Linked DNA regions of Homo sapiens. The protein of the gene in region 1 purifies or fractionates together with the protein of each later gene. This does not show direct contact. Each region holds a gene or a part of one and is shown in the gene's direction. Other genes may lie near its edges. The genes, in order: FOXN3, ZBTB34, RFX3 and RFX2.

The links.
Region 2: the proteins of FOXN3 (region 1) and ZBTB34 purify together in Homo sapiens (affinity purification with mass spectrometry; 2 studies listed by BioGRID and IntAct, with this or other methods). This does not show direct contact.
Region 3: the proteins of FOXN3 (region 1) and RFX3 purify together in Homo sapiens (affinity purification with mass spectrometry; 2 studies listed by BioGRID and IntAct, with this or other methods). This does not show direct contact.
Region 4: the proteins of FOXN3 (region 1) and RFX2 purify together in Homo sapiens (affinity purification with mass spectrometry; 2 studies listed by BioGRID and IntAct, with this or other methods). This does not show direct contact.

What each region holds. Positions count from the first base shown.
Region 1 is NC_000014.9:89,344,184-89,351,341, reverse strand, and holds part of FOXN3 (forkhead box protein N3), read left to right. Parts: intron 1-533; coding exon 534-670; intron 671-848; exon of another isoform or gene 849-1,055; intron 1,056-7,158.
Region 2 is NC_000009.12:126,863,639-126,870,638, forward strand, and holds part of ZBTB34 (zinc finger and BTB domain-containing protein 34), read left to right. Parts: exon of another isoform or gene 1-54; coding exon of another isoform or gene 55-74; intron 75-7,000. UniProt on the Homo sapiens protein: May be a transcriptional repressor.
Region 3 is NC_000009.12:3,522,905-3,531,059, reverse strand, and holds the start of RFX3 (transcription factor RFX3), read left to right. Parts: upstream 1-5,058; 5' UTR 5,059-5,313; exon of another isoform or gene 5,314-6,558; coding exon of another isoform or gene 6,559-6,580; exon of another isoform or gene 6,581-7,430; intron 7,431-8,155. UniProt on the Homo sapiens protein: Transcription factor required for ciliogenesis and islet cell differentiation during endocrine pancreas development. Essential for the differentiation of nodal monocilia and left-right asymmetry specification during embryogenesis.
Region 4 is NC_000019.10:6,037,475-6,044,632, reverse strand, and holds part of RFX2 (DNA-binding protein RFX2), read left to right. Parts: intron 1-350; coding exon 351-440; intron 441-2,509; coding exon 2,510-2,589; intron 2,590-4,391; coding exon 4,392-4,653; intron 4,654-7,158. UniProt on the Homo sapiens protein: Transcription factor that acts as a key regulator of spermatogenesis. Acts by regulating expression of genes required for the haploid phase during spermiogenesis, such as genes required for cilium assembly and function.

The sequences.
Region 1 (7,158 bases):
CTATTCCAAGAGTAAATGTCATTCTTTTGTGAGTAAGCTGGAAAGAAACAAGGGGATTACTTTTCTGTTTTTATAAAATGATCCCGATGTCATATGGTTTTAAAACATAACTAAATTTCTGGAGCAGAGATGGACTTTTGGGGGTGTCTCGGCCCTCTTTTTTTTTTCCCCAAACTTTAGAAATCTGACACAGTTAAATTCATTTTTAGAAGAGAATGCACGTGTTCTTCAATGTTGACGCTGAAAAACAATGAGATTCTCATTTTATTGGTAGTTTGGGTATGAAAATTGTAATATTGTTGTATCACCATAACCTGGTAATAATATGTTCATTTTGCCTATCAAACATAATACAAGTAAGATTGAAGTGCATTTTATGGAGTTCTACTGTCAGTATAATATTTAAGGCTGGCAAACAGTCAACAAATGAGAAGCTTTTAAAAATAAAGAAGTGATAATAGCTATACATCTACTTATTGCAAAGTACTTAATAATTCTCTATTAATGCCTTTGTATTTTAATTTTCTTTGCAGAGTATTGGGAAAGGGTCGTTGTGGTGCATAGACCCAGAGTATAGACAAAATCTAATTCAGGCTTTGAAAAAGACACCTTATCACCCACACCCACACGTGTTCAATACACCTCCCACCTGTCCTCAGGCATATCAAAGGTAAGCAATTCAGACTTCTTTTTTTTGGTCTACTGAAATGGCATTATTTTGGCAGAGACCTGCGCGGAAATTAATTTAATAGGCCGTACGAGATTTTAAAAATAACTGCAGGTAAATGAGAAAGAAATTAAGTATTATTAGGAGGCATATCCACTGTTGTATTTCCTACAAACCTTACCGCTGCTGCAGCGTCAGAGGAATGTGCTTCCAGAAGGCTTCATGGTGGGTGAAATCATGTCTTCCTGGGTAGAAACATTTACAAAGAAAAGTCGACAGCTTTCACATCTCGGTGTGTGTCATGTTTTGTTGGGATAAAAGTACAGGAACGAGTCAAGCAGGCAACTCCATCATCCCCTCATCTGGCCGGTCTCTGCAGACATTCAGTGGAGGCTCACTCAGTTGTCCCCACTGTTGTCTTTCGCAGTCTCCATGTAGACGGTGCTCCCAGGTGACCATTTTGTTGTGGTTACTTGGTCTTTGCTTCTTCAAGGAGAACAGTAGAAACAATAGAGACATTTTATCCTCCTCACATGCCCATTTGTTTGAGACAGTAAGGTCATGGGTACCATTTTTACAAATATATCATTGGAAGGGAGGGTAAGTAGCCTGTCACTTTTTTAAAAAGTGTCTTAATGTTAGATTCCAAAAGAGAGCCAAATAATCAGAACCAAATTTTTAAGATCAATTTTTATGAATACATAGTACTTGAATTTGAAGTGCATTCCTCAGTTCTACAAAAAAATATTTAAAAATGTATAGAAATGTTTCTATCGTAACCACCTAGTTAAGAGGAATTATCCTTGGACTGCAAGTTGAGGTTAATTAGGGATGGCATGATGTCATAGACTTCAGGAATTTTACAGTCCACTTCTTTGCAGATTCTTTTCCTAGTCTGCTGTTTGTTCTGCAGGAGGGAGCACAAAGTGATCTTCTGAAATAGCATTAATGAAGTTCTTCTGCATCTCAGTTGAGAAGCATTCCATCACAGGCCCTAGACAATCAGTCTTCAGCAAGAGACAGGGAGGAACAGCTGGGCTCTCTGAGAAGACTGCTGTATGTCTGCCTTTGCTAGGCGATTAGCGTGATGGTACCCATAGCAACTGGAGCGTCTCCATAGTAACGCGTAGCCGAGACAGGTGCAGTTGCATCACAAGGCTGTTTGTTGCCTGGCAAAAGGACAGGCCATTAGTACTTAGATATACACTGTTGCCTTAGAAACAAATAACCTTACATAGCAACTACAGTTGATTTGAAAGGTTTGGTGTGTGGGGGGGAAGGTTGTAGCAGCTTTTGTCTGTGTTCATAAAAATCAGTGGAAGCATACTTTATTCGAAATGACAACTTGAGGTCATATAGCTGTAGGAGAGAAAGTGGGATTTTCCAAAGCAGCCCAGCCAACATAGTAGACATGTCCAGAAGGACAGAGCCATATGCTTGGTTTTCTCCTTGTGGCCATAGCCACTCCCCAAATGGAAGAGAACCAGGATTGGAGTGGAGAATTGCCGATGTACAAGGTTGGTGAAGGAGGACGTGACACTAATTATTGAAATATTTCCCAGATTCTCATGTTTCTTTGTCATTCTACCCCCACCCCCCGACTCTCCAAGCTGCATGGAATACCCTTCTCTGGGTTTTCCACTCTGCACCTCAGAAGTATTTCATCTCCCTTTGCTTCTAGGAAGTTAAGAACATGAGTGTTACTCACTGGGTCATGTCATTGGTTCCTTTAGACCAGTATTTTGTTGCCAAATGTGACCCCGAGGGAAACACAGTAATTATTTAATAATTCGAAGGATTATAGAGGAGCTCTGGGGGTTGGAACAGGAATGCATATTCAGGCGAGAGGCATTCTGAGCTGGCCTTAGCTTAATGACTTCATTTGATTTTTAATATAGACATAAAAATGCAGATGAACCAGAGCTTTTGTAATGAAAATCATTTCCGAAGGAATATTTCAGACCCCACTCCGTCACCTCCAGCCTTTATCCCCAGTTGACTGAGGGGGGAAAAAAAACCAGTTTCTGCTTCTGCCCATGCGGTGCTTAGATTTCACCTCCACAGAGGTCACTGGCGGTGGAGGGAGATGACAGATGAGATTCTAGTCTGCCTCTTCCATGCCTTAAGTCCATGAGAACAAGTCACTTTCTCTTTCCTGGGGACTGTCATCCCTTCATCTGAAAGCTGAGAGTTTGCTTCAGGATCCTCTAGTGTGTGAAATTGCACTGAAGCCACTGAACACTGGGTAATTGTACAATATTTCTGTGTCTTAACAGTGATGTGGCATTTGGTTCAATTCTAAGCCATCAGGCCACTTGTTGACATGACCTAGAGAAGATGGAAGTGAAACACCGAGTCATTAAACAGGGACCCCAAAATGCCGAATTGACGTGATCTGGCTGGGTCCACTGTGATGCGGGGAATCACCCGTCAGCCCCTTGCTGGATCGCTGTGAGGGGTACCTGGGAAGTGCTTGGCTTTCATGGGGCTGGTACTTAGCATCCTGAAGAAGATGGTGATTATACTAGATGGGCGGTTATTGCTAGGACTTGCAGGTGTGCTTGGCAAATGTCACTCTGAACTGAGCTGCAGGTGGCTGGAAATGCTGCGGGAAAAGCGAGACATTTGAGAGCACTGCCCAGACCTTGCTCACATCCAAATACCATGCTAAATATTGAGATGTGTAGACCCGTGCCTCTGTTTTCCTTTTTTGCTTTTTTTTGAGACGGAGTCTTGCTCTCTCTCCAGGCTGGAGTGCAGCGGTGCAATCTTGGCTCACTGCAACCTCCGCCTCCTGGGTTCAAGGGATTCTTCTGCCTCAGCCGCCTGAGAGTAGCTGGGACTACAGGCAGGCGCCACCACACCCAGCTAATTTTTGTATTTTTCGTAGAGATGGGGTTTTACCTTGTTGGCCAGGCTGGTCTCAATCTCTTGAACTCATGATCCGCCCGCCTCGGCCTCCCAAAGTGCTGGGATTACAGGCGTGAGCCACCGCGCCCGGCCCATGCCTCTGTTTTCTAAAGTGCCCTTTTGAATGTATGTTAGGATGTTCTTCCACACCTGCTTTGTTGATACCAAATTTGTGAATTGTTTTTAATCGAAGTGCAGAGCTCAGCGTGGAGTACTTCAAACCAAGTGACTTAAACAACAGAAACTTACTGTCTCAAGGTTCTGGAGGCTGGAAGTCCGAGACCAATGTGTCGGCAGGGTTGGTTCCTTCTGTGGGCTGTGAGGGAGGGTCTGTTCCACCCCTCTCTCCTAGCTTCTGGTGGTTTACTGGCATTTTGCTGGAATGCTTTTGGCCTTCCTTGGCCTGTCGAAACATCACTCTGATTTCTGCCTTCACCTTCACTTGGCATTCGTTTTCTCCATGTGGTGTCTATGTCCAAATTTTCCCTTCTTGTAAGGACACACTGGTCGTATTGGCTTAGAGGCCCATCTTTCTCCCGTAATAATTCATCCTATTTAACTAATTACATTTTCAATGGCCCTGTTCCCAAATAAGGTCATGTTCAGATGTACTGGGGGCTAGATCTTCAATGTAGGAATTTTGGGGAGGCATAAATCACCCCATAGCAACCCTTTTCTTAAGGGAGACATTTTGCTGATGAATATATGGAGAAGCAGAAAGTAAGGAAATATTTAAAGAACAAAATGGTGGGGTGGGGGGCAGGGGTGTCAAAGGGATTCGCCTGAAGTTGCTCCTAGTAGCCAAAGCTGGGACGGTGATGAGCAGCAAAATAAATAACATAGTGTTGGATTATAACTGGAAATATAAAATAAATACCTATGAGTCCAGACTGATAGAAATAAATGATTGAATAAATAAACAAACAAATAAATGAGAGAAGAGACACAATTCCCATTCAGAGGGTTCCAAATGCTTGATGTAGCTCTTTCTCCACTGAAAGAGGTGGGACGGAACTCTCCACTCCTGGAATGGCTGCACTTAATGACCTACTTCTAAAGATGAGAGCATGGAAAAGGTTGGAAAAGGGAGTTTGGAGTGGACAAACCTGGTGAACAGTATGCCACAGGTGATGAAAGTACCATCCTCAGTGATGTGATGTTGATACCGGGTACCTCTCGTAGGACATCATAAATTTGGCACTTCAGCTTTGTGGTCTTTCTCCCCAAACTCATAACCCCTGTCTAGTCATGGGAAAAACATCAAACAATGATTTTGTCCTTCAGCAGGGACATTCTACAAAAATAACTTGATCCTCACTCCTCAAAGCCCCAAGGTCATCAGAAACAGGGAAAGTCTTAGAATCTATTACAGACCAGAGGAGACTAAGAAGACATGATGAGCAAATGTGTCCTATGATGTCCTGGATGGGATCCTGGAACAGAAAAAGGACATTAGGGGAAAATGTGCAAAATATGAATTAACTGTGCAGTTTAGTTAATAGTAATAGTAGTATGCTGCATGTTTATAGCAGCACAATTTGCTGCTGCAAAGATATGGAACCAACCTAAATGCCCATCAACCTATGAGTAGATAAGGAAAATGTGGTATATATACACCATGGAATACTACTCAGCCATAAAAAGGAACAAAATAATGTCTTTTGCAGCAATTTAAATGCAGCTGGAGGCCATTATTCTTTTCTTTTATTTTTTGAGACAGGGTCTCACTCTGTCGCCAGGCTGGAGTGCAGTGCCGCGATCTCGGCTCACTGCGATCTCTGCCGCTCAGGTTCAAGTGATTCTCCTGCTTCAGCCTCCCGAGTAGCTGGGATTACAGGCACCTACCATGAAGCCCTGCTAATTTTTGTGGTTTTTAGTAGAGACGGGGTTTCACCATCTTGGCCAGGCTGGTCTTGAACTCCTGACCTTGTGATCCACCACCTCGGTCTCCCTAAGTGGGATTACAGGCGTGAGCCACTGTGCCCGGCCTGGAGGCCGTTATTCTAAGTGAAGTAACTCAGGAATGGAAAACCAATGGAAAACGTATGTTCTCACTTATAAGTGGGTGCTAAACTGTGAGGAAGGAAAGGCATGAGAATGATATAATGGACTTTGGGGACTCGGAGGGGAGTAGGGGGAAGGTTGGGAGGGGGATTAAGGATAAAAGACTATCTATGGGGTGACAAGTGCACTAAAATCTCCGAAATCACCACTAAAGAATTTATCCATGTAACCCAAAACCATCTGTACCCCAAAAACTATTGAAATAAAAAAATAGTAGTATACCAGTGTTGTGACAAGTGCCTTATTAGTAATATATGGTGTTAACATCAGGGAAAACTAAGTGAGGGGTATGCAGGAGCTTTCTGTGCTATCTTTGTAACTTCTCTTTCCTTTTTTTTTTTTTTAAAGCAGTCTCCAAAATGCAGACTCATTGATCAATTTTAGATATCCCGATTGTTTTTGGTAGAATGAAAAGTAAAATCACTGCAGCACTGAGAGTTGCCTGACCTACTTTAGTGAAGAGCTGATTGTGAAGGGCTCTTGCTTTTGCCTCATTCTCTGGAAGATCTGCTGAGCCACACGAGGGGTCTCTTTGTAGTTTGGATACTACAGTTCTTGGAACGTTAGTTTTGTGAAATGGCACTCCACTGTGCTTTGTAGAGTACCCGTGGCTGAGCTCGGGCTACTCATGCACACCGAGCCACGCCAGCTTGCTTGGGGAATCTACACCTTTGCCAAGGAGACTCTGGCGTGGGGCCTTCGGAATCTAGATCTGGAAAGTGGAAGGAGGGGTGGTGTGTTTGGGTTGCTTGCCCGTACCTCTTCGGAAAAGTCCACTGAGCTGTTCTAATCTTTATGTTGCCTGTGCCCCTCCTTCCTAGATACGTCATTTCTCATTAAAGAATATGCGTATTTTAATGTTTCCAGTAGACATTGCCAAATTGCCTTCTGATTTTACACTCGGTTCTAGTCCACATTCCCACCAACTTTTTAGGAAATTTCTATTTTTCTAACCTTTCTCAATGTCTGACAGTTAAATGAAAAGACAGTTCCTCAATGGGTGACCTTGACTTTGTGATTTTGGTACTTATAGTGGGGGTATTTAAACTTCGTAACACTACATTAACACCCTATAAACAGCAGCTCTCCCCATAATAATGTTTATGACAACAGATTGTTTTTAGAGAGTGACATATATATGGGTCTTATGTAATACCTTCTCTGCTATAGGCACCAATCCAAAGTCAGTTTCCAGAAAAACATTTTAATCCTCTCTCACCATGGTTGGAGAACAGGTTTTGCATTTAATCAAACAGTATGGTTTATGGAGAGTTTCCTGGATGATTGGTTTTCAGAGCCAGCGTTGTTTTGTGTTTCCTTGGTAATTCCAAAGAAATCCCAGCATCCTACGTACCTTTGGCCTCCATGATGGATTGACCATGATTGGGTGTTAGATGGTCAGAAACTGAGTGAGATGGTTTTTTTTTTTTTTTCTTTAATGAGCTTTCCCTTTTTTTGCTTTAAAATTTTCAATGTAAAAATAATGACATCATAGTCTATATTTCATGTAAAGTATT
Region 2 (7,000 bases), on another chromosome or scaffold:
AGTTAAATTTCTAATGGTTATTTTCTGGTTGATGTTGATGGCAAGGAAAACCTCATGGAAGAATGCAAGTCAAGGTGAGCTTTTCTAATCCTTTTGTCATAAGAGGCAGGACTTAATGTATTTTCCAGGGCCAGTGCCCCTGAAATGCTAGCCAGCAGTAAGCAGATAAGATGCTGTGCCTTACTATTTTTTAGTTATTTGCCTTAAGAAAGCTTATTTTATCTGAAACAAATCCTCTCAATTAATGATTAAAATATGAAACATCTTTTTTCCTACTTCACTGACAGAAGTAAAAATAAGGGACATTTTGCAAAGAAATGACTGCAAACCACTTGAAGTACAACATATTGTGACCCCTTAATCATCACAGTGTCAGACCCAGCCTGACTTTGTCTGTGTGGTGGAACATCCTTAAATGAGAATTCTCTTTCTACTCGGAGTTGATCAGTAAGAATCCAGCACCAATAAAAATCCTGCATCTCACCAGTATGCCTGGATTAAAATCTTACTCTTATAAGAGATAAGAGTTCTGAGTCTGAGACTGACAAATCTAGGTCCAAATCCTGGCTCAGCCAGTCATTAGCTGAGTGACCTTGGGTAAGTTTCTCAGCCTCTCTGGGTTTGCTTCCTCGTCTGTAGAATGGGGATAACTGCAGCCTCTTAGTGTCGTCTAAGAGCTTACTTACCATACTGTACACAGTAGGAGCCTACTGACCGTTAGTCCTTGTCATTGCTAGTAAAATTAAAGAGGCCATTCCTCTCCTGCTTGGAAAGCTCAGAAGAAGCTTCTGATGATGTTTTGCATTGACTAAAAGACAAATCGCACCCTCTTGGAATTAGTGTATCTGAGCAGACCTGGAGAATGTTAACGCCTTGGTAGGAAATGTAACAGTTTGGATAAAAATGTTCTTTCAGGCTCACATGAATTAATGCAGTAAGAACTCTAAACTTGTTTTCTTTTAAATTAGGATGAGTGCTTCATGAATATCCATCACAGAATGCCATTTTATTTATTTTTTTTTTCTTGCATTGGGTTTCAGTAGCACCAGAATGTTTCACACAGCCCTGGTGTTATTTGACTGCTGCTTTCTAAAAGATTAGATTGTAGCTCATGACAGCTCAATTTTGGTTTTAATCTAGACCCAGGCAGAAATACCTAGAAAAGTTATTTTTATATAATTGTTACTTCTGTTACCATGCCTTTTGTCTGCGGTGCTTCAGTCTGTGGTCTTTTTAATGACTTTGTATGAAAATGAAAATTAGGGATCTTCAGGTTTCCAGTGCCTGCCAGAGAAAGCCTCGTTTGAGCTGTGTCTCAGGTATCAGCAAATGACTGAAGCCAGCAGGTGCAAATCTGGGTTTGGAATCATGAGCATCTTGATTGAGAATAATGGGTACCTCCTGGTGCCTTAAACAACTTCCAAATTTGTAACTTTCCTTTCTTTTCTTGGAAGTGTAACTGGATATTTTTAAACAAAGTGTAGCATCTTGTGGAGCAAATTAGACTGTTTATGGGTTAGGTTGGAATAAGCCACCGTGCTAGATTTTGCTGTGGGCAGAGACGATCCCGCATCTCTGGGGTCTCCAGAAGGAAAAGTTCAGAGCTGAGGGTGCGGCTGTAGTGGCAGTCCATGGATCTTGAGCCACCAGCTTGTTTTAGTTGACATGTACTGAGAGCCTCTCTGCCCCAGACACACTGCTGGGCTCTGGGCACGCAGTCCCTGCCCTCAGAGAGCTCACCGCCAGGAGTGGAAGCTCAGCAGTGAGGAGTCTCACAGAATCAGCACATTTCTAATTGTTCAGCTTTTACATTTTTACTTTTGTTCTGGTTGTTGATATGTGGAGACAGTTCCAAGGCTTTATCCAAGAAAGTTGTAGAGGAGATTTTAAGGCCCAGGTGGGTGTTTTGCCCAGATGGCATCTGAGAGTCCCTTCTTATTTTTAGGTTCTCTGCAGAATGGGTCAGCAGTGTGAGAGGATGTCATTAGTTTTCCATTGTTGCATTTCCTCACAGCTTAACAGAATACGTGGTGCAGAATTTTACTTAAAGATACTAGCCAATGGGGCCGGGCGCAGTAGCTCATTCCTGTAATCCCAGCACTTTGGGAGGCTGAGGCAGGCGGATCCCTTGAGGCCAGGAGTTCGAGACCAGACTGGTCAACATGGTAAAACCCTGTCTCTACTAAAAACACAAAAATTAGCTGAATGTGGTGGCACATGCCTGTAATCCCAGCTACTCAGGAGGCTGAGGCATGAGAATCACTTGAACCTGGGTGGCGGAGGTTACAGTGAGCCGAGATTGCACCACTGCACTCCAGCCTGGGCACAGAGCAAGACTCTGTCTCAAAACAAAACAAAAACAAAACTAGTCAGTGGAAAGGCTTGAGGAGAGGGCTAGGTGAGGATGTTACCCCCTTCATCAGGTGCTGTGTTTCCATTCCTCTTTTCTAGGAGCAAACACCCTTTCTATTCTCAGCCTTCTCTCTTTTTTTTTTCCCTCCCCGAGTAACCTCATTTTACCAAAACGATCCTCAGTCAGTACACAGTCACTCCCAAATCAGTATCTTCGGGTCTAATATTTCTCTCTAGCTCCAGCCCCATATTTCCCACGACCCCGTGAAAAACCTGAGCCCAGCTTGTCCTGGCTGAGCTACGTGGCCTCCGAGTAGACACCATGCCTCAGTCTCCAGGTGCTGCCGCCAGAATTCTGTTTGAGTTCTCTGAGTATTCAAGGCCCTCCACCTTCTGACTGTGGCCTTCTCCTTCCATGGCCTTCCTTGTCCCTGAGCTGGGGCCACTGCATGCTGCCTGCTCTACCCCAGACGCTGTTTGCATTCCCCTGTGCCCTGTTCCTGCTTTTCCTTCTGTCTGGAGTGTTCTTTTTTTTCCCTTTGAAATGCAAGGCCTTGTTCAAAAATATCTTCCTCCATGAAGTTTTCTTTTGTTCTATTTTGATTTTTTAAAAATCTTTTTGGTCAAAAGTAATCAGCCTTGTATTGTTCCTTGTAGTTCTTCGTTTCTGCCTTTATAACTGTCTGCTTGATGTAATAATTATCCATTTGCAGCCCATCTTTCTACTCTAGATTCCTTGGTTTAAAAAATTATATATTTGTAGGTACTAACCTACATGGCTTAAAAAAAAATTTTAGTGAGAATAATAGTTATGTGATTTTTTAAATGCAAAGGTATAAAATAAAGTCTGTTTCCCTTCCCTCTCCTTAGTCCTTCCCCACAGTGACCACCATTAATAGTACCACGTGGTTCCTTCCAAAATGGATACAGCAAGCAACGTAATATAATTCCTTTACAAAACGTACATGAAGGGAATGACATATATGCATACATATTAGTCTACATCTTGCTGTTTTTGGCTAAATCTTAGCACTCCTTCCATATCAAAGCATACAGATCTACCCACTCTTCTTAATAGCTGCGTAGTATTTCATTGTTGATTATATTTTTTGAAACCAGTTTCCTTTGGGGGTTCCTTTTTTTTTTTTTTTTTGCTATAGCAAAGAAAAATTCTTAGTGGTTGTTCTCATATGTCTCTCTTACACTTTTGTAGGTCCTATATATTAGTAGGCTTAATTCCTCCCCGTTACTTGTGGACCAAAAGGTAAATGCCTTTTACATTTTGATAGATATTACCAAATTATTCATTCCTGAGGACTACACTTGCCAGCTCTTTTAAACTGTGTGCAAGGCTGATGGGTTAAAAATGGTATCTCATTATTTTTTCTTTTTGTATTTCAAACGTCTTTAATCAGAAGTAAATTTTAGCATCTTTGCTTCTTTTTTTGTCATTTTTCTTTTTTTTTTTTTTTTGAGCTGTTTGTATCCTTTGCCCATTCTCCCATAGGGGTTTTTTTTGTGTATGTCACCTAATTTGATTTGTAAATTAAGGAATTTGGAAAGTAGTTCTTTGTCAAATATGCATATATTTTTCCTCAATATATCATTTATCTTTTGGCTTTTGGCGAAAAGGGGTATTTTTTTTGTCATGTACTTTTACGTTGTCGAATGTATTTGTCTTTGCCTTTGTGGCGTCTGAGATTTATGTCATGCTTGGAAAGGCCTTTGTGTCAGTGTTATAAATAAATTCACCCATGTTGTCTTTCATTTTTTTGTTTTTTTTTTTTTGGTGATAAGTCTTTTTAAAATACTGGCATAGGAATAGAGTGGCATTAAATGGAAAGTAATAAGATCCTCCATACATTCCTTGGTGCTTTATAAGAAATTGGTTGACATGTGACACCTTTGAAAATTCAAAGGAGCTGTGTTTGCCATTGGTGGGCCACGGTATTTTATGTGACCCTCTAATGTTACATATAAGGGCAGTTATTGCCTTTTTGCCTCTTTTACTAACTCAGTGAGGGTGGGGAGCTGAATGGAAGAGCAGGGGCTTGAGTTACTGGTTTCTGTTCACCCTTCTCAGCCTCAGCCGTGAATGTGACATGATGGTCGCTTGCTCTTCCTGTTTTTGTCGAGTGGCTTTTTGTTCTTAAGCCCCTTTGGGTAAAATGCGTTAACCTGGATTGGGGGGTGTCTCTCCCTTGTGTGTTGTTGCAGAGCAGCCTCTTGCTGTCCTGATGCATGGGCGCAGTGATGGATTCTGTAGCTTTTTTGAGTGGGATCTTGCGAAGATGTCAAGCAGCATTACTTACCAAGCCTGTCGTCATATGGTCTCGCATCAGACCTTAATTTTCTTTTCAGCGCATCCATGCCTGCTTATTTCCAGAGCCCCCGCTTTGGCTTTGGACTTCAGGTCTGTGGGAGGAGTGTCCCAGGATGGCTCGTGCGGTCATTTCCAGGCAGTGCCGCTCTCCCTGTGGCTTGTACCCACAGTGCCTCACTGTGTGAGTGTCCTCCTGCTCTGGTTGCCCAGCCGGCCATCACTCCACAGCGTGTGTTCATTTCTCCCAAAGCTGCTCGCCTTCAGCTGTGCTCACCTTTGCAGTGTGGCTTCCATGTCTGCCGTCCTCTGGTGCTTTCAGACTTGGCTTCGTCACTGCTTGGTCAGTCCTGGAGGGCCCCTCACAGTTTGCTGTTGCTTTCAGGGCGCCGGTCTCAATGCTGCTTTGAATTCTGTTGAACTTGGGCTGAACCCTGTGTCTTCTTGGCAGCATCTGCTCTCTGTGACTTTCACCTTCAAACACCAAAAGGACCGGTTTACTTGAGCCCTAGATCTGTGGTTTCTAATTAATTGAGGCTTTCGCATGTAAAGATAGCTTTTTATTTAAAGCAAGTAGAGTGAGCCAGGGTCCGGGGCTCTGAGGAGGAAAGGGGGATCAAAGCTGTGAATATGGAGGGCATGATACACGGTGGCCGCGGGGCCCACCTGGAACATTCTTCTCCTCATAACCCTTCTGCTAGTGATTCTGGTCTAGAAAAGAGGGAGATTTTGCTCTACAAAGAGGGTGCTTCACTAAACTCCTACAGCTGAAATTGCTTGGTCACAGCGAATATGCAGATGTAATCTTGATGGATATTACTAAAATGCCCTCATTTGCCCTTCTCTATTCTGGGCAGCAATAGGGAGGATGTTTGCCCACCCCCACCCCCCACCCCATCTCCATCCCTTTCCTTGACACTGTCCTAGGGCAGGAATGTAACACAGGTCCAGCTCGCTAGGGATAAGGGGTTGTTGTATAGGGACCTAGATACGCACACTTCAGAAGGGTCCTGGGAAAGTCAGCTGCTTGGATCCTTGGTTTCCTCATCTTTAAAATGGGAGTCATTGTACCTGCCTTAAGGGGCAGGTTGGGAGGATTCAGAGACATACTGCGTCCTAAGCCTTACTTACGACATGCCTGGCATGTATTACACATTCAATAAAAGCTGGTCACGGATGATGACGGTGGTGGAGTGACTCTGCCAAGTAGAGGGGGAGGCTGAGGGGTGTGGCAGCAGGGGCAGTCATCCCCTTTCACAGCAGCCCAGGCTGGTGTGGGGGCGGCTGGGTGCCTGGAAGTAGGAGAATGTCGGTCCTGCCCACATCAGAGGTGGTCCTTCCCAGAAGCTACCTGGGAGACCAGTGGTGGCCTTGTGTGGTCACGGCAGAGGCTGTGTGTGAGGTGAAAGCTATTCCACAGGTGTGAAATTATTCTCTTTCTTTGTAAGAAAGTAAGATTTTGGAAGTAAGAAATTAAAGAAATTGAAAGAGCAGAAAGATTGTCTTTCCATTGATTGAGTGAACAGAAGAGACCTGTGAAGAAGTTGAGGAGGTGACAATTTTGAACTTACCAAAAAACCATTTCAACAAAGTTCTATCCATGTGTATTTTTTAAAAGAAGTATCTCACATTCTTTTTCCAGAGTATAGTTTTTATAAACAAAAACAGAATTTTTGTTAAAATACGTATCGATACTGAAAATAAATCCAGCTTGTATGTGCTTGTTTTTTAAATTAAAATAATAGCAGTGTAAATGTCTAATTTGGGTGTGGTTTTTTTGCCTAGAATAATGTGACAGAAACACCTATGATTAATCTCCTGAATTAAAGAGTTCTGGTTCTGATGGTTTTAGTGAGTGGAATAATCAAATTCATTTTTGTTTTCTGAGGCAGCTGCAAACTTAATCTAAATGAAAAACTAATATAAATCACTACTCTGCATTATCAAAAATGAATTCCATTCCCATCTCTCTCTGAGTGGGGAGGAATCTGCATTAAGCCTCTATCAAACTGCAAGACTGGGACTTGTATTCATCTTTGAATTCCCTTTGGTTTTCTGTATGTAAGAGATTGATATTGAGTGAATATTTCCTATAAATGTAGGAAAAATAATTTAAATTCCCAGTCAGTGTGCCATTTAGTGATTGCAATTAAATCTAATACTTGCAGCGCATGACAAAAGGCTAATTTCCTTAATTTGCGAAGAGCTCTGACAAATCAATAAAAAAGGCAAATAAGGGCAAAGGATATGAGTAGGCAGTTCAAAGACAAACTTAGACAAATTGCCATTAAACATGAGAAAAGATATCAACCTCATTTATAATTAAAC
Region 3 (8,155 bases), on another chromosome or scaffold:
ACTAAACACAGATTACTTTTTCCTGTTCTTAAATTTTATATAAATGGATTCATATGCTATGTACTCTGTGTCTGGCTTCTTTTGCCAAATGCAATGTTTTTGAGATTTGTCCGTGTTGTATCAGCAGTCCTTTCCTTTGACTTGCTCAATAATACTCCATCGTATGACTGTATCACAATTTGTTTTACTCTTTTACTTTTTAAAGACAAGGTCTTGCTCTCACCCAGGCTGAAGTACAGTGGTGTGATCACGGCTCACTGCAACCTTGAACTCCTGGATTCATGCAATTCTCTTGCCTCAGCCTCCCAAGTAGCTGGGACTCCAGGCATGTGCCAACATGCTCAGCTAAGTTTTAATTTTTTTTTGTAAAGACAGAGTCTCGCTATGTTGCTCAGGCTAGTCTCAAACTCCTGGCCTCCAGTGATCCTCATGGCTTGGCCTCCCAGAGTGTTGGGATTACAGGTGTTAAGTCATTGTGCTGGGCCCACAATTTGTCTTCCCATCCTCCTATTGATATACATTTGAATTGTTTCCAGACTATTTTTTTTTTTTTGAGACCGAGTTTTGCTCTTGTTGCCCAGGGTGGAGTGCAATGGTGCGATCTCGGCCCACCGCAACCTCTGCCTCCCAGGTTCAAGCGATTCTCCTGCCTCAGCTTCCCAAGTAGCTGGGATTACAGGTATGTGCCACCACACCCAGCTAATTTTGTATTTTTAGTAGAGATGGGGTAACTCCATGTTGGTCAGGCTGGTCTCGAACTCCCGATGTCAGGTGATCCACCCGCTCGGCCTCCCAAAGTGTTGAGATTAAAGGCGTGAGCCACCACGCCCGGCCCCAGACTTTTTTTTTTAAAGCTGCATGTGTACATCAAAAGGTAATTTGGTGTTAAGCAAAGGTAGTCAACTTATGATTCTATAATCATCTTTCTGTGCTGGAGTAAAAATGTAATTCCAAGACATACACATGCACACAAACGTGTGTACACATAGCCACACACACTCTTCAGAACTGCCGAGTAATCAGCTGGTTTGTATTACTTAAAGAAAACACAGAAAGACAAATCTACCAGAAAAAATTATTGCACTGTTTTCAAAACCAAATCATACTTTAGGTGGGGATAGGGAGGCTTGAGGGTGCTCCAGAGAATAGTGGCAAATTATGTTCAGTTTTGAATTACCTTGGCCCCTATCACTCTCTTATCATTTTTAAATAATTATCACATATCCACAGAATTTCAGATCTAGTAAAGGGAATTAGCAATCGAGTAATAAAATTATCCAGTATTCCACATAAGTGCTCAATAAATATTGGTACAAATGAAACCATTCATTTTATATAAGAGAACCCAAGACTCTACATCTCTCTCTCAATTGAAGAAAATAGGATATAATCAAATGAAAAAATTTAAAACAGGTGTGATTTCTCTCATAAAAAGATTCACCACAAATTCAACAATAAGGTGCCACAGCATACATTACTTTTCAAACTCTCATACTATTTTTCAGAAGCAAGCCTATCACATAGCACTATTTTATCTTTTCATATGCATCCTTTCTTTTTTAAAGTATAATAATGAAATAACTTATTAGTCCTTGAATATGGAGTAGATATGAATAGGCAAAAACACTCTAATAGATAATACAGAAATCTACCACTACGAATGTGTTAAAGTAACTTATGAAATACACAATCTATATATATCATCAGGGCTTCAGATTTTTCTTCAAGTAGTTCAGATACAAATGTGTTATTCCATGTCTCTTCCAATCATTCTGATCGGAGAGAAAAAAACAATCCAAGTTAAAACACAACATTCTAAATTAATAGATAATGTTGAACATTTTACATTCAGGAACTATGTCTGCCCAATTTTAGCTTGGTTATGTACCTTTTTTTATTGATCACACAGTGTGTTTTGCACTATAATAGGTGATAACTGTTAGAGTGGTCCAATACTGGGTCTTTTCTGTGACTTCTTAGCAAATAATTTATTTCTGAAACATACATGCAACATATGTGAAGATGCATCTATGCAGCTTTAAAAAATGGCTAAAAAAAATCCTACAAGCAATAACTATGGGTTAAAAGGTTTCTGGGTTCTTTTGTAACTAATTACAGTATTAAACAATACATGCATATAAAATCCGTATTTTCGATTCTATAGCTTGAACTGGTATCTTGGTCATCTGATTCAGTGTGGTGGTGTATTTGTACCTTTTCACACTGCTATAAAGAACTGCCGGAGACTGGGTAATTTATGAAGAAAAGAGGTTTAACTGACTCACAGTTCTGCAGGCTTAACAGGAAGCATGACTGGGAGGTCTCACGGAAACTTACCATTATGGCGGAAGGCGAAGGGTACAAGGACTTTCTTCACATTGTGGCAGGTGAGAGAGGGGTAGTGGTAAATATTTTTAAACAAGCAGATCTCGTGAGAAGTCACTCTTGAAACAGCACTAGTGGGATGGTGCTAAACCATCAGAAACTGCCCCCAGGATCCAATCATCTCCCACAGGGCCCCTCCTTCAACACTTTCGGATTACGATTTCACATGAGAGTTGGGTGGGGACACAAAGCCAAACCCTATCAGGCAGTAACACTAACATTTCAAATATTAACCTCAATATGGTTAGAATTGTATCATCATCAAGTATCCTAAAACATGGGAAAATATTCTAAATTCTAAATTTTCAAGAATTAACTTCAGGAAATTTATCTATTCCTAACTCTGGAAAAGACCAAATCTGTAAGGCAAAAAAAAAAAAAAAAAAAAAAAAAAAAAATTTAAGCAGCTTAAAACTGATTCTATAATGTCCTAGCACAAGGGTTGCACTTATTTTTTAATAGTCCCTCGAAGTACCTATTTATACTCTTGAGATACAGTTTTGCACAAGGTTCACTATGTGGTTTTCTTGCCTGCAGATTAAGAGCAATAAATTAAAAGGGCGGTAAGGATAATAGAACTATGTTCACTGACAAAAATAAAAAGCAACAGCTGACAATGAAAGACGGGACAGGCAAACTATAACAGACAATGGAATTTAAAAAAACAAAGCTATTCAGAGAGCCATGTAGTGTGAACATACAGCCCTACACACCATTATAGGAATGAGGACTTTATCAGTAAATATAATAAAGAGAATATTCATAACGACTACCAGTTTTCATAAAGCTGGAACGTATACCTCATTTCCCATCTGTATGTCAAATGGGACCCACACTGGTCACCACACAATCATTTGTCTGACTAGAAGCCCTTACTACCACAGTGGGTCAGGAAACCTTTTAGCTTTAGCACTAGGCTCACCACTGTTCACTACTGCAACACATTATTATTGTAAGAACATCTCTAACTCATGAGATTATCAAAGGCAACAATATTACTTTTAAAAACGTACCCAAAGTAGCTGGTTCCTAAAACAAGGTAACCTTGTATTCTATGGCACGCAGCCATAAACTAAAACCACCGACTTTTAGGACTCTCGGCCTGTTTTTCCTCAAATGCGAATATTACCTAACACTGGTGTTGTTGGGATTACATGAGATAATGTATGTAAAACACTTAGCACCAGTTCTGGGACACAGAATGAGCTCAGTATTATTTTAGCGCTGGTGAACGCATGCCGGCCCAAATCCCTTACTTGCAGGTGCAAAAATTAAGCCTCAAGAGGAGAACTGACTTCCTAAGGCTCTACTTCTACTATGTCATTGTCCTGGTTAAGCAGCTTAGCGGCAAATGTTGGGAGATTTTGGGTATTGGCAGGGCCTGGGGGCATGTGCCTGCTGGACTCGAGTCTGCAGAGAATTGGAGGAGTCTGTTTGAACCATGAGGCATTACAGGCTGTGCCTTATCAACGGGTGTTTGAGATGGCAGGTTGTGTTAACAACATTCAACACAGACGGAAGCCATTCGTCTATCTCAATACAGCCACAAACAGCAAGACCCTCAGCTACAGTAGGCTGAGTAACGGGGGATGAGAGCACGGCAGGTAACAGGATCCGGGCTTGAGCTCAACTCCCAGTTCGGTCTTTAAAGAGGGGTGAGCACTTAAGGGCTGAAACTAACAGAACTAGAAACTAACAGGATGGTATCGCAGGCAGGTGTAAGCTACCCCGCCCCTCTACGCCTTCCGTCGAGGGGAACCGCCAAATGCGCTTTCTCAGCCTCCGGGCAGGGCAATTTCTTGCTCTCTACAGGCACTTACTCCCATCCCTTGTAGATAGGGAGTGATGACCTCGCTTTTTCGTTATGGAGTGAGGGCCGGACACGCTTGGACCTCACCTCTCCGCGCCACGCTGCGGCGGCACCGCGGGAGGCCGACTCGCGCCCACGCACACCCCACGCTCGCCTTCTCTAAGATGGCGGCAGAGGCAGCTCGCTCACGCCCCGCCGCCCGCGCTCCTCCACAAGTCGTGCCCTCAGGAGGCGGGAGCGGGTGAGAGCGCGGAAAGCAGGAGGGCGAGAGTGACGCGGACCCTCCAGTCTAGCGCAGGCCGCGGAGCCCTGAAGCGTCCAGGAAAAGGAAAAGCCAGGAGGCTGACGCTACCAGGAACACCGCCGGCGCCTCAGAAACTAAAAAGCGGCGGCACATCCGGGCCCCTCTGCCCGCCCCGCCCCGGAAGTAACGTATCGGGCAGGGCGGGGGCCGCTCTTCAAAGTGGATTCTTCCCTCGCCATAGCTCGTTTCTTCACAAAGTGCCTGGAATCACCCTCGCCACCCCCTCCCCCGGGTTAGCCGTTACTCTCTCGTGGCTCCGGGACGTCTCTGTACAAAGCTGGCTGCTGGGACAGGCAGCCCTCGTTTCACAGATAGTACCCCTCGCACCACGACTCCTGGGCCTCGCCAGCGCGTGTAGTAACGTCCCTCCGAGAGGACTCTTGGTGACCTCAGCCCCAGCCAAGCATAGGCGCACCTCTTCGGAGTCCTGCGGTGGAATCCCGGCCTCGTGCCCCGTCACCCCGCCGCCCCGCCACCCCACCCGGGTTTGGGGGCCGTCAGTCACAGCGCTGCGCCCTCCCCTTCCGGCGGCTTGGCCGGGCCCGCCTCCTCCCCTCTTCCCTCCCCCACCCCTCCCCGTGCGAGTGTCTCCCTCTCCCTCTCGCTCTCTCTCTCTCTCCCTCTCTCTCTCTCTTTTGTGAGTTATAGCAACCGTTGCCTTGTGAATCAAGCGCCATAGTCACCGTAGTCCTGGCGACTGTTACCCATCAACAACAACTACTCCTCTCCTCCTCCTCCTCCTCTTCCTCCTCCTCCTCCCCACCACCACCATCTCCATCACCCACCAACAACACCACAATAATCCACAGCCAAGGTGAATATTCTTCGGTCTCTACATGTGTGTGGGAGCGTGTGGCTGCGTGTGAACGCGTGTGTCCGTGCGTGTGTGTGTTCGTGTGTGCGAGCCGAGTGTGGCTGTGCTGGGGTCTCACTCCTGACACGGGGGCTGCCGCTGCGGCGCCGCCGCCGAGGGGCTCTGTTCCCCGGGCTTGTTTACAATGGACCCTGCGCGCCGCGGCTGGGTCGGGGGTGTGGGCGCCGCGCCGCCCGCCGGCCCCGGCCCTGCGCCGGCCGCACTTCAGGGATGGAGCGGGAGCTTGGGGGGCTGCGAGCCGAGCGGGAGAGGGAGCCACAGTTTTCCGATGCGGATGCTGGATCTTTCCCTTAGGTCTGGTCTGAGGAGGAGGGTCAGGTGAAGAGATAAGAATTTGTTCTTTCTTTAATTTTCTTCTTTTCCAACGCTGCTGTTTCCTGCTTCTTTCAAAGCCGAAATAGACAACAGTGTGCAAGGGGGGGACCCAAGAGGTGGTGTTTTGTTGTTGTTGTTGTTCACTTGTGGGGCCTTGTTATGGGTTTTGTTATTTTTAATCCTCATACGTTGGTGAACTTTTCCCACCGCCCATTCCCTTCATTTTTGCCCCTCTTTGCCTGGTGCTGAATGGGCTGCTCTTCTTTCACCATCATCAGCTTCATGGTTTTCTTTTTTCTTTTTAAAACTGTATTTTCTTTGTGCGGCAAACAGTCTTAACATCCATTCAGCACTCTTCCCTCCCCCTCTTTCTCCCCCCCCCCACACACCCCTTGCACACATATTGAAACCTGGGGCCTGTTCGTTGGGCCCTCTTTGCTGTACTGGGAAAGATGTTTTTCTTTTTTAAAGTCTGTCTCCTCTCTCTTCTTTGGTGTGTGTGTGTGTGTGTGTGTGTGTGTGTGTGTGTGTGTGTGTGTGTGTGCTTGTGATTTAAACCGGATGCAGGGCATCTGTGATACTTGGGTTAGTAGTTATTGACAGTGCTTTATCCTTCATGTGGAGGTGGGAGGGGGAGTAGTGAGGTTCCGTTTCACTTTGATGATCCTCCTTCCCCGCAGTAGAGTGTTAACAATTTTCATTGTGATTATGAGACTTTGTGATGAACAGGGAAGGGACACAAGGAAGCTTTGTGAGAACTCAGTTCACAGTGTTATTTGTGACAGTTATGGTACTTTAAGAGTTTTTTTTTTTTTAATCTCCTCATTTTCCTTTGAGAGTTGAAATTCAAGTCAAGTTCATAAAGAATGTATGAAGGTTCTCAACTTGAAACGTGTGTATATTTCACTTTCTTTCTGGTTAAGATCTAGGCATGTGTGTACTTAACATATTCTTTTTATTTACTTTTTGATTTTCTTTGGACAGTGACTTGAACCTGCTCAGGAGAGAGAACTTTTTCCTTTTTAAGTATTTCTTTTAAAAATTATTTTTCTCTGTAGATTTGAATACTTATTAGTCCTTATATAGTAGGTTCTTGGTTAACGTTAACCCAGTTTTACAGATCCCCTAAATTTGTTCATTTTTTTCAGCTTAACTTTTAGTTAATAGATTTATCAGTAGAGTTTTGATAATGAATGTGTGCTAAAACAAATATAATGTACTATTGTAGTTGCACATATTGAAGTTTTAAATTTACAGTTTTAAAATGCTTATTCAAATAGTCTTCTTTCTAACAGCAAACATATATTGATTTAACTGACACAGCAGCTTGTGAATAATGTGACAGTACTAATTATTCTTGAGATTGTCAACGAGCAGGGTGGGTAATTATAATGCTATTAAGGCTAATATTTTGTAAAATAAGAGTTGGGATTTTAAAAAAACTTTTTCAATTCATTTCCTTGTGATTGCTATTTTAAATGAAGACGATATTTTGTTCTGAAAGAAGTCTTTCTCAGAGCACTCAGATTTGTTTATAATTATTCCTCCTCTCCCCAAACTGGGTTCCATGCAAATCTCTAATACTAACTTGTATTTTTTTTTCTGTTCAGATGAGTGTCAAATGCCTGAACACTTTTGGATGGTGAAGCTCCTGGGTCCTATAAACTCTCTCTGAAGTTAATAGGAGTTTTGCTGTCTTGGGACAGTTTCAGACCTTATGCCATTTACATAATAGGTTTTCAGTTAAGTAAATTATATACTATAATGTTATGGTTTAATATTTTATTTACAGTGTCTGAGAACTTTTTTTGAGGCATTTCACTCATGTATAGCTCAGGTTTTCTGTGATTTAGATTTTCATTCACAAGTTGATTTGAGAGCAGAACTTAAATTGAATTTCATTACTTTTCCATTTTTTGAAGCATATATGTGGGATAAAATTGCTATTAGAGCTGCTGTGGAATTGATTAAATAATCAGAAACACTGAGAAATGGTAAATTTAAAAATTAAACACAAGGATAGATACTTAGCATTTACTTTATTCTTTCTTAATATTTTTCCTAGAAGGGACTATGTTATGTATTGATACTCTCTTGTGTTTTCAGTTTTTATACTAATAGAAATTTGTAAAAGTGATCATGCTTTGAAACTAAAACTATTAAATAGAAGTCACTTGTAACTTGTTTTGAATAGTCAAATGTCTGTGATTCAATGTATGTCATAATGCCTAACTCAGTCGTTTTGGTGTGTTTTGCCTATGAATTGTATTAAATGGTGTAGGCATCATACATATACACATATATGGCAAACTAATGAATTTCTAGAAGTTTTGCATCGTTTCACAATGTTTTCATTAAAGGTTGTAGTGATGGTTAGTTTTTTTTGTATTATTCCTCCAGTACTCAAATAGTCTTGTACTCTGCTTTGGTACTCAAATAAAAGGTTATAGTTTATAAGCTTACTGTG
Region 4 (7,158 bases), on another chromosome or scaffold:
GAGGCAAAGCTGCCTGGGCGGGTGAAGGTGCATGTGCTTCCGTGTATGTGTGTGTGCATACGTGTGTGTGTGCCCACAATTCGTGCATATGTGTGGTGCATGGGCTGAGTGTATGTGCACACTTGTGTATGTATGTGCATTGTTTGTGTGCCTGCACGTACCTGCCGTGTGTCTGCCCAGGTCGGTGTGAGTGTGCAAGTCTGACCATCACCCCGCCGTCGCCTCTGATCAGTCCTGCCTATGTTTTAATAAAAAGCACATGAACAGACAAACAGCATCTTACATTCTGTGTGTATCCTCAGCACTGACCTCTGACAAGTCTAACTGGCCTTCTCTCCCTTCCCTTTTAGAGGGTGTTGGTCCAGGCAGCCAGCTCCAATCCCAAAGGGGCCCAGATGCAGCCGATCTCCCTCCCCAGAGTTCAGCAGGTACCCCAGCAGGTAATGACAAGCACCGCAGCACCGTGCAAACCGGGGCGCAGTTAGCACTCAGCAATCCAGAACAATCTCTGAAGGATGCATCCTTTTCTGTGGCTGCTGTTCCTTGTTGTAAGCTTCAGTTTCTTAGCCAAAAGACTTTTCCAGAAGCTGTGCAATTTTAAAAAAATCATTTACTGCAGATAGTTTTGCAGAAAGCCAAGAAAGCTGGTGATCTTTCGTTCATTCAGAAATTCAGCAAGCATTTGGGGAACCAGTGAGCACCCCGCACCTGCTGGGTGGAGCTCAGGTAGAAATGCAGACAGAAACAAAGGGCTCTGGACTGGAGGAACCATCTGCTAGTGAGTGCCATACCCTCAGATGCGGGCACAACAGAGGAAATGCTTCTTATGATTTCAATTATCTAAGAACAAAGTTTGAAAGCACGGCTGACCAGCCAAGTAGCAACACAGATCATCAGCTTGGGGACACTCTAGAAGCATGGTTAGCAAACTGTTTCCAGAAAAGGCCAAATTATACATTTTTGGGGGTTTGTGGTCCAGGCAGTCTCTGGAACAACCACTCAATTCTGCCATTGTATCGCAAAAGCAGCCATAAATGATATGCAACCAAATGGGTGTGGCTGTGTGCCAATAAAACTTTATTTACAAAAACAGGCAGTGGGCCAGATTTGGCCCTCAGGGCCGGAGTTTGCCAACTGTGCCCTGCAGAATCCTGAATTAAAGTTAACTCAGGCTCCTCCCTAAAAGGAGCCCTGAGGCCCTAGAGAATGCACCGCTCTTCAGGAGGGTCCTGCCTAGATTGGCAGTCTGTTCACAGGCATTTGTCAGGTGACTGTGTCCATGAGAACTAGGAAGGTTTGCAGGATCACAGGAAGGAAAAGGCTCCAGACAGGCCCAGCGGGGACGCAGGGCCTCAGGCCAGTGGCTCTGTCTTAGCTGCTGTCTGTCAAGGCACTCCCCAGAGACACCAAGGAGAGGAGATTCCAGAAGCTTCCACCACTTTTCTGGTGCTGGGCCTGCCCCAGCTCTTTCTGTAACTTCTGCATTTCACTTGGACCCCAGAATTCGACATTTGACTTCCACCCCTGGGGCATCACCCAACAGATGTTAACCCCTGGAACTTGTGATTCTGGGGGTGGTGCGTTGGACAAGTGCATACCATGCTCAGTGGTCCAAGGAGGGGCAGGTCAGCCCCATCCTGCAGCTTCAAGCACAAGAGGAAGGTCACCATGACACCATGACACCCGAACAAGCCCACTTCTGTGGCCCTCCATCTTCTCACCCCAAAATTCAGTGGATGTAGACAGCCACTAAGATGCCCTCTGGGGTGAGAGTTTGAAGTCCCATGTGCAAAGCGTTTGGCTTCCACTGCTCGGACTAGAGTCCCTCGGGGCCTGTCAGCCGAGGCTCTGAACTGATGTTTCAGAGAGGGGAGGGCAGGGCAGCGGGGGTGTGCTGGGGTCCCCCCATTGCCCCATCTCTCCAGGCATGCCGCTCCTTCCCACTCTGTTCAGACCATCACATTCTCTCCCCTCCTCTCTGCCAGGGAAGGGGCACCAGGGCCACCCACGGGGGGTGTTGGGGCCATGTAGAGTCTAATCTGCTCAGCCCCCTGTGCACTGCAGCCTGCACGCCAGCTTGAGCTACAGAGGGAGACCCTGTCGCAAAAAAACAAACAAACAAACAAAAAAAAAAAACAGAAACCAGGGACAGTCCTGTGAGCCAAGGCTGGGCCTCTGTCCACAACTCTAGTTTCCACTGCACTGGAGGAGCGTTGTCATTCTCCTGGTCCCGCCCCCACGTATACAGAGGAGCCAGGGCGCACAGACACGCTAGCAGAGCTCTGGGGATCAGTCGCAGCTCCCTGAACTGTGTGGGCCCGTTTGGAATATGTCGTCTGTACATTACTGTCTCCTCAGTGTCTTTCTAGGCGTGCCGACTGTGGGCGGGAACATTGTCATTTGGTACTAAATGTTCATAAAGGCAATAGAAGACACGTCTAGCTTGAATAATCTGCAGGCAACTCACGAGGGCGTGACTGGCGGTAACGCAGCGTATCCGATGTTTCAGGTGCAGCCGGTGCAGCACGTGTATCCTGCCCAGGTGCAGTACGTGGAAGGGGGAGACGCCGTCTACACCAATGGAGCCATGTGCGTGCTTCTCCCGCGGGCCACACCCGGAACCCTCTCCCTGACTCCAGCCTTTGCCACCTGGGGAGGCATCAAGCAAATTCCTCTCCCTTATGCTTTTGGCGATGTGTTCACTAAATACTGTTAAAATGCTATTAGGAAACTGGGCAATATCTCTACAAAAAATTTTAAAATTAGCCAGACATGGTGACAAGTGCCTAGAGTCCCTCCCAGGTAATCAGGAGGCCAAGGTGGGAGGATCGCATGAGCCCAGGAGTTGGAGGCTGCAGTGAGCTATGATCACGCCTGACTGATGGAGCAACACCCTGTCCAAAAAAAAAAGGAGCGGGGTGGGAGCTGAGGGATTAGGACATCATAACCCTGTGGAGATTTCAGAAATCACAGACTTTTGTACTTTTTACTTTTAGAAAAGATAGTCTTGGAAAAAAAAAAAAAAAGGCTAATCCTAACTCTTCATTCTGAAGTCTCAGTCTTTGAGATCCAGAAACCATCCACCCCTGTGTGTTTTCCCCTCGCCTCTGTTAAACTCCAGCTTTGTATAATGTTGATAGAACTTGATTTTCCATGTTGCAAGGATGTCTAGAGTTTTCTGCTCTGTAACTGTGTGATGCTTGGGGTAGGAAAGTATGCATCTCCCGTGCAGCTCACTTTACTTTAGACGTGAGTCCTTTCGCCTGCTTGTCTGTTTCCATTTGGCCTGGATGGCTCCCCTCACAAGTGCAGGGGCTGTACATGAGAACCTGGCTGTGACTTCAGGGTTGTGATTGGTGGAGTTGTATGATTCTAACCCCAGCCACTGTGGCGGTGCACACCCATCACCCCAGCTACTGTGGCGGTGCACACCCATATTCAGAGGCTGAAGCAGGAGGATCACTTGAGCTCAGGAGGCTGAGGCTGCAGTGAGCTATGATTTTGCCACTGCACTCAAGTCTGGGCTACAGAAGGAGACCCTGTCTCAAAAAAACAAAACAAAAAAACCCCTGGAAATTGACATTGGGGTAAAACTGTTAACTAGCCCACAGGCCTTATTCAGTTCTACCAGTCTGTATGCACGTGCTTTTGCGTGTGTGCTTGCATGTGGAGTACATGTGGCTTTGCATGTTCATGTGTGTACCCTTGCATGTGCGTGCGTGTCTATTTCTTTGCATTTTTAGCCCATGTGTAGATTTGTGTAACAATACCACCATCAAGATACAGAACTGCTCCATCTCCACACAGGAGCTCCCTCATGTGACCCATTTATCCACTTACAATTTTAAGTTTTATTTGTATTTATTTTTTTTAAGAGATAGGGTCTTGCTCTGTTGCCCAGGCTAAAGTGCAATGGTGCAGTCACAGCTCACTGTAACCTCAAAGTCCTGGGCTCAAGCAGTCCTCCCACCTCAGCCTCCTGAGTAGCTGGGACTACCGGCACGCACCACCACACCTGGCTAAATCTTTTATTTTTTGTAGAGATGGTTCTCTCTATGTTGCCCAGGCTGGTCTCAAACTTCTGACCTCAAGCAATTTTCCCACCTTAGCCTCCCAAAGTGCTGGGATTACAGGCGTGAGCCACCACGCCTGGCCTAGAATTTTTAAGTGGTCACTTTTTGATAAGTCAGCCTGTGGTCCTAAAGATTTTGCAACATGGTGGCTGTGAACTTGCGCTGCATTTGAGTGTCATATGCCACGTCCGAATTGCTCCATATGTCTGGCCTCTCTGGGTTGCAGCTTTTACGTGATGTTTGGCTGGATATCTGTGAACTCAGACAAGGCATTTAAATGGGACAGCGTCCCATGCGTGACTTCTCTCTTTCTAACAGACGAACAGCCTACACCTACAACCCCGAGCCTCAGATGTACGCCCCCAGCAGCACGGCTTCTTACTTCGAGGCCCCAGGCGGTGCCCAGGTGACCGTGGCAGCCTCGTCCCCGCCAGCGGTCCCCTCCCACAGCATGGTGGGCATCACCATGGATGTCGGGGGGAGCCCCATCGTCTCCAGCGCGGGAGCCTATCTCATCCACGGGGGGATGGACAGCACCAGACACTCCCTGGCCCACACCTCCCGCTCATCGCCCGCCACGGTATGTAGGAGGCTCTTGGGACCAGCAGGGTAGGCCATGAGTATTCTCGAAGCAGCGGCAGCAGGGATGGTGAGTAAGAGGCAGCCGGAGGCCCGGAGGGGCTGTCGTCTGCTCTGGGCCCAGGCGGCCCCACGATGGAGTCGGGCCAGCCTCAGACGGGCCACGCAACCATAGGCAGGCCTGCAGAGTTCTTTGAACTTCAGTTGGCCATTGGTATAAAGAGGAGGACAAGCCATGCGTCATGGGCTGTTGTGAAAAGGGAATGAGTCAAGCATCTCTCCACTGGTGGATGCTGCAGCCTCCTTTGCTCTTATTATTGTTATCGTTGTTACTATCAAGCTTTTAGAGGCGTGGATCAATCCATCCATGAGACACCTGGACTGAATCAAGCAGGGGAAGTTTCCCTGCAGCCTCTGCCGAGTTCTCGCTGCCATGCCCCGATGCAAAATAACGACTTATCTGCTTTTCCAGAGTCTCTACATTTAAAACTCGATTACCCGTGTTTACTTTTCATTTATTTTCCTTCTTAAATTAACACAAAGTAAAATCAACTTTTTGGTGTACAGCCTTGTGAGTTTTGACATGGGTAGATTTGTGTATAATCAGGTCACAGAACAGTGCATTGCCCTGAAAACCCCCTCGTGGTATTTCTTGGCAGTCACAACCTCCCCCATCCCCAGCCCTTGGCAACTGCTGATCTGTTCCCTATTGCTGTAGTTTCATCTTTACTAGCGTGGTGTATAAATGGAATCGTACAGATTGTGACCTTTTCAGACAGGCTTCTTTTACTCATTCTGGTGCCTTTGAGATTCAGTCAAGTTGCTGCATGAATCCGAGTTGCTTTTTTTTGTTACTGAGTAATATTCTATTACACTACAGTTTGTTTATTCATTCACTAGTTGAGGGCCATTTGGATGGTTTCCAGTTTGGGGTGATTATGAATAAAGAAGCTCTAAGTTTCACATGCAGGCTTTTGTAAGGACATATGTTTTCTTTCTTTTGGATATATACCTACAAGTGGAATTGCTGCTGGCTCATACAGAAAGTGTATGTTTAACTTTATCAGAAACCACCAGTTTCCCAAGTGGTTGCACCATTTTGCATTCCCACCAGCAACATACAAGAGTTCCTCTTGCTCCTCTCCGTCAGCAGCATTTGATGCTGCTGGTGCTCTTGGTTTTGGCCATTCTAATAGATGTGTGGTGGTACCTCATTGTGGTTGCAACTTGCATTTTCTTTATAGCTAATGATGGTAGCAGCTTTTCATGTGAGTGTAGATGCTCTGGTCAGGTGTCACTTCAAGTCATTTGCTTCTTTTTTAACTAGGTTGGTTGTTTTCTTATGGTTGAGTTTTGAGAATTCTTTATGTATTCTGGATACAAGTCTCCTGTCAGATATGTGACTTGCAAATATTTTCCCCAGTCTTTAGTGTGTCTTTTCATTCTCTAAAAAGTGTCCTTTGCAGAGAAAAAAAAAATTTTAATTTTGATGAAATCCAACTTATCAATTTTTCTTCTGTGGCTCATGCTTTCAATGTCATGTCTAAGAACTCTTTGCCTATTTGCACATTATGAAGATTTTCTCCTGTTTTCTTTGAAAAGTTTTATAGTTTTACTTTTGTTTTGGGTTTTTTTTTTTTTTTTTTTTTTTTCTGAGACGGAGTCTTGCTCTGTGACTCAGGCTGGAGTGCAGTGGCACCATCTTGGCTCACTGCAACCTCCACCTCCCGGGTTCAAGCGATTCTCCTGCCTCAGCCTCCCGAGTAGCTGGAATTACAGGTGTGTACCACCACACCCGGCTAGTTTTTGTGTTTTCAGTACAGACAGGGTTTTACCATGTTGGCCAGGCTGGTCTCGAATGCCTGACCTCAAGTGATCTGCTCACCTCGGCCTCCCAAAGTGCTGGGATTACAGGCGTGAGCCACCGCGCCTGACCATAGTTTTACATTTTACATTTAGATCTGCTTCCTATCAAGTTAACATTTGTATAATGTAAGGTTTAAGTTGAGGTTCATTTTTTTTTGCTTATGAAACAATGTGTTGTTCTAGCCTCATTTGTTAAAAAGACTACCCTTTCTCCATTGGATTGCTTTAACACCTTTGTCAAAAATCAGTTGGCCATATGTGTGTGGGTTTATTTCAGAGTGTCCTATTCCATCCCATTGGTCTGTCTGCCTATCCCTTTACAAGTAGCATAGTCTTAATTACTATAGCTTTATAGTAAGTCTAAAATTGAAGAGGATGGTTCCTCCCACTTTATTCTTCAGTATTGCGTTGACTATTTATATAAACTCAAAGTTTCTGTATAAGTTTAGATCAATTTATCTATATCTACAAAGAAATGCTACTGAGATTTTGACTAATTTGCACTGAACCAACTTGGGGAGAATTCCCATCTTTACTATGTTAAGGCTTCCAATCCATGAACATGGTACGTTTTCTCCATTTGTTTAGATCTTCTTTCATCAGCATTTTGTAACTTATACAAAATTCTGTACATGTTTTG